Regions from separate parts of the Homo sapiens genome. Here region 2 is linked to region 1. The links come from fine-mapping of genetic effects on gene expression. Tissue or cell type: whole blood. Region 1 holds a variant in brackets; the other region holds the start of a gene. All regions are shown on one strand. Distances are from middle to middle.

What was found. PIP is the estimated chance that this variant, and not a neighbour inherited with it, causes the effect.
Region 2: it holds the start of COX7A2L, and the variant in region 1 is fine-mapped to the expression of COX7A2L in whole blood (TOPMed, PIP 0.95).

The regions. Positions count from the first base shown.
Region 1 is chr2:42,304,965-42,307,809 of GRCh38, forward strand. The region is part of intron 17 of EML4 (EMAP like 4); the gene reads left to right. Among named protein-coding and RNA genes, the nearest start is that of COX7A2L, 55 kb to the right of the region's middle. The variant G/A (reference allele first, on the strand shown) is at 1,577.
Region 2 is chr2:42,360,024-42,362,523 of GRCh38, forward strand. COX7A2L (cytochrome c oxidase subunit 7A2 like) reads right to left here and starts at 1,194. Exons shown (of 3, transcript NM_004718.4): 1 at 1,067-1,194. The coding sequence starts at 1,138. RefSeq lists enhancers at 367-1,111, 885-1,204, 1,112-1,855, 1,225-1,284, 1,845-1,934 and a silencer at 1,485-1,654.

The DNA of each region.
Region 1 (2,845 bases):
AAAAATTAGCCAGGCGCAGTGGCACACACCTGTAATCCCAGCTATTCTGGAGGCTGAGGCAGGAGAATCAGTTGAACCTGGGAGACAGTTGCAGTGAGCCGAGATTGTGCCACTGCGCTCCAGCATGGGCAACAGAGCAAGACTCCATCTCAAAAAAAATAATAAGGCGAGTTGCAGTAGCCCACGCCAGTAATTCCAGTGCTTTGGGAGGCTGAGGCAGGAAGATTGCTTGAGGCCAGGAGTTTGAGACCAGCCTGGGTGAGACACCATCTCTACAAAAAATAAAAATAATAAACATTATCACGAATTATATTAGAAAATGTTAAGAACCATGTGAGGATAGGGAAAATGATGGGAGATTAAGAGGGAGTGCAGTTGCAAAATGATAGAGTGGTCATTATGGGCTTCATTGAAAAGGAGTTGCAGATTTGACTTTTCCTTTGTGAAATGAGAAGAATCAGAAAATTTCTCTCCTCATCTTTTATGCAGGGGAAGGATTTGAAGCTGATGTAACACCATTGAGCATTTATAAGTTGTTTGTGCTATACCTTTTGCCATCCTGTCTTTTTTAAATGCTACGCAGATATATAATAAAGATATATTTTCTAAAATAATTTAAGACCTGTCTTGCAGACCTTGTATAGTACCTAAGGTTAACATGTTTATGATTTATATATCTTTAATTGACTCAACTTTATTGCCTCTGCTAGTAAGTAGTCCTTCTCACATTTTTTAAGGAGACAAAAACATGAAGTCAATTTTCCCAAAATTAAACTCATTAAAAAATGTGGAATGCTGATTTTTAATGGGGTGAGACTATTGTGAACATGCTTATGTAAATATTTTTGTTTCTATATAAGACTTAAATACTTTAAACCAACTAATTCATTTAATTCTAACTAAATTTAGTCATTTAGAGGGGGTTTTTTTATAGCGATTTTTCCTTCTGGCTGTTAGATACAAATTAACACCTGAAATGTGAAAACATTCCAATTTCTTCTTACATATAGTGCTGCAGAATCTTTCAGAATAATGGAAAAATAGGTCTTTAAAGATAATTGAATTATGAATGTGAAACTAGAGATGCTATTGAGTGAAATCATTGAATTTTTAGAATTAGGCTGCTTGAGAGAGCATTTGGTGATACTTTGCAAATATAGAAGGCTAGCTCAGATCTTCCCCAAAACACGTAAGTAATAGATCATGATGAGGTTTAAAAGCACTTAGACTTGGACATTTGTCCATTTGGACCGAGTTTGGTCCATTCTCTTTGAGAAAGACACATGACAGGTAACTGTAGGATTTGGAGGAAATTATTTTCTTCAACCAAAAAAAATGGTTAAGCACACAGGAAACCATCTGAGGTGTAGTGCTGATCCAGTTTTCAGAAAACCACAAAGGAATTCACTTCAGATCTTTATTTTTGGCAGCTAAACAGATATCACAAATGCTAAAGTCCTTGAAATAATAAAAGTAAGAGATATCATTTATTCAGTGTCTGATGACCTTGTGCTAAATCCTTTTTTTTTTTTTTTTTTTTTTTTTTGAGATAGAGTCTCGCTCTGTCACCCAAGCT[G/A]GAGTGCAATGGCATGATCTTGGCTCACAGCAAGTTCCGCCTCCTGGGTTCACGCCATTCTCCTGCCTCAGCCTCCAAAGTAGCTGGGACTACAGGCGCCCTGCCACCACGCCTGGCTAATTTTTTTTTTTTTTTGTATTTTTAGTAGAGACAGAGTTTCACCGTGTTAGCCAGGATGGTCTCAATCTGACCTCGTGATCCTCCCGCCTCGGCCTCCCAAAGTGCTAGGATTACAGGTGTGAGCCACCGCACCTGGCCGCTAAATTCTTTTTATATGTTACTCTTCACAAGAATGTAACATAGTGTTTATTAATATCGTGATTGCACAGACAGGAAACCAAGACCCATAGAGTTCTGTTACCTGTGATTGAGCTCAGGTTCTGCATGGTTCCAAAGCTTGTCCTTTCCTCTAATCCAACAGTACTCTTTGAGATATTTACAGCATTAATTAGAAATATTGTTAGGAAGGTTTATCTTTGACAATTAAATCACTGATTGACATTGTTAAAGCATACTATGTATACAAGGGAGTTAAACACTAAATGGGCGATTGTAAGGCTAGCGGGGTTTGAATCATGAAGATAAACTGCTTTGGTTGAAGAAAACACTGTGTGTTTACAAATAGACATACACGGCCCCAATTTGTAGGGAAAATTGTTCTGAAAAACTCACTGAAATTACTTTCCAGCATTTACATAGCTGTGAAGTCATCATTGACAAGCTTAAAATGGAAAGTCACTCAATTTTAGTGACTTAAACTAAAGGTAAGCCAATTGGTTTCTCTTGGAGTTGTAAGTAGAAAACACTTCATGAGAGTGATGTGATAACTAAATTGAAAGTGCTGGCAGTCCATTTGGGGATTGATTAGAATCTAGGGGAGATGTAGTTGTCAGTGTTCATTCTGTATGTAACTCCTGTCTTTGGTTTCAGATCTGGTTAGGTTCTGTTGATCCTTGGGGAACTTTCTCATTTGTTTTTATTTTTGCCTTGGATCTATGAATACCTGAATGTATTGTCTAAAATGGAAAAATCTTAATGTAGCCATTCTATTACTATCACTGACCCTAGGCCTGAAAAAAGTCACACCTAGGGTTAAGAAATTTTTATTTTATTTTATTTTATTTACTTATTTAGAGACAGTTTCCCTCTTTTGCCCAGGCTGGAGTGCAATGGCATGATCCCAGTTCACTGTAACCTCTGCCTCCCAGGCTCAAGCGATTCTTTAGCCTCAAGCCTCCTGAGTAGCTGGGATTACAGGCGCCCACCACC
Region 2 (2,500 bases), 55 kb after region 1:
CCTGAAATCTTTCTTAAACATCTGCCTCTTGGGCAAGCTGCAGTGTCCCACAGAAAAAGGAAATGAAGCAACAGTAATGGAGTATCCTTTACACCTCATCTGGGCCCCTCACTACTGCAGTCTAACTGCGTATCTCACCGACACTTCCCACACTTCTCTAGAGGATTAGGAGGGAATATACTATCTCAGACAGCTTCTGGTGAACAGTTAACACTTATCCAGAACCAACCACCTGCCCAAACTGCTAGTCACTTGACACACTTCATTTAATGTGTACTAACGCCGCCCTGGATGAAACTGAGCTCACAATAAATTAAATAACTTGGCCAAGGTCACACAATTAAAGCGGAAAACGCCATGATTTGAAAAGGCACGTCTGGGGCTCTAAAATCCCTCATGTTTACCCCCAACACATGCTGGAGAGTCAAACTCCAATTGGTAGAATCTGCGTGAAATGGAATACTTTTCAGACAACCCAAACAACGAGCATCTGTCAAATATTTTACAATCGGGAAAGTGTAACCTCGCTGCATGCAACTTCCCTCCCTGGACGTGTTAAGTAACCTGTTAAATTTCCCAACCCAGATCATAGCCCCCCAACCCCCTGCACCATGGTTTCTCTAAACGCCTTTATAGCCCCGCGCTCTCTAATCTCGAGCTCAAGTGAGGCTGCCTATGGGGCTCTGGCAGATGACAAACGACAAGGAGGCCGAAAGCCAGATGTCTTCGAATTGAGGGAGAAGGCCGGACCTCTGACTCGGGTCACACTGGGGACCCCCACAAACCATCCCTTTTAGACAAGTGACCCCGGGGGTCACCTTGACCCCTGCAGTGAGCCAGACCAAACTTCCACGCCAGGCCAGCCCCCGCCAGGTGAGCAGGTACACAAAAAGAAGCCTCAGTGACCACCGTACGCTGGTGTGGAGAGGCCCCGGGAGGTGCAAGGAGAACAGAGACGAACTCGACCGCGGGCAGAAGCCTCCCCTGGCTCCAACGCCGCGACTGCCTGTCGCCGAGGCTAGGGCCGCCACTTCTCATGTCCGAGCTGGCCAGGCGCCACTCGTACCTGCGGGCTATAGGCCTCCGAAGCCCATGCTCCTGCCAACTTCTGCGTGAAGCCACTAAACTTGTAGTACATGACGCCCAGAGTCCGGCTTCCCGCATCCGCTGCCAACGCGACCGCCCCAGAGAAGGACCCCGCCTCCCCGGCTGTGGTCCCGAGACTCAGCGCAAGGACCCGGTGCTGGGACTAGGGCTGCCCGAAGATCGCCTAACTTAAAACCTGCACACTTAAGCCGCATTGGGGAACCAAAAGCCAGGGTTCTCAGGACCACGAAAGGCAAAACCAGCTCTAAGAGAGCACGCAAAGTCGCTGTGGCGGAGTCTGTAGGAAATATGAAGTTCCCTCTTTCCCCCATTCAGATTTGGGCAGTGCCACGACAACTCAAGAAATGCGCAAGCGCTCCACGGACTAAGCCCGGCGGACTAAGCCCGGCAGTGTCGGAGTCAGGTGGAGCATGCTTTAGGAGGGGCGGGCTCCAGGCGGGGCCTGGGGGGGAGAGGGCGGTGATTGGTGGGCGTGGTCTGGGTAGGGGCGGGGCTACATCGAAGCCGGTTGGGAATTCCACCATCCGAGAGAGTCTGTGCTGCGGAGCCACCGTCTGGTCGTCGGGTTGAAGGCGTCTCTTGCTTTACCGAACTTTAACTGATCGTAGTCTCATTTATTTCCTTCCGACCTAGAGCACCTCTTATCCAGAAGCCACCACCTGCTGTTGCTCAGTCTGCCCAGGAGTATAGACTTGTCGGCCAAGCTTCCCCTGGCAACCTGGGAGTTGAAGCAAATAAGAAAATTTGGAAGCACCTGCTGAAGGCTGTTTAGTACCCAGGGCTGTTGGGAGATTTGCCCCAATAATATAAAAGTAGCCTCCTGGGCTTTGTGCAGAGGAAATACACATGCAGAGTGATCTAAAGCTCAGGTACCAGGATGTAAATGTCACACGGTTTCTCAGAACTGGTTTTTATTCTCACCTGAGTTTTAAGGTCATTGATTATTCATCCTTTTCCTGGCCTCTGCTCTTTGCGATAAATGAGGTAGGGGGAGGGTGATCAGAAACACTTGTAAAATCTGGACCTTGAGCCTGAAAGATCTGGAACTACCACTTTCAGTTCTGGTAGTATTCGCTTCAGTTCAATTTAAATATGTCTGTTAAGCCTGTGCTGTGTGCAAGGTACTGTGTAAAAGGAGTATACTAGTTTCTTACTCTCCAGGGATGGACTCAGGCTTTTCTTAGCTTCATCATCTAACCATAGGTTTACACAAGCATATTCTAGATGCACTTATGAAATCATGTTGCAAATTGATGGATGATACTAACCTATATATAGCATTGCCCTAAACTCATTTAATCTTCACAACAATCCTATAAGGTAAATGCTATTATCATCTCCATTTTAGAATACAGGAAAATGACGCCTGGAGAAGCTAAGTAACTTGCTCAGG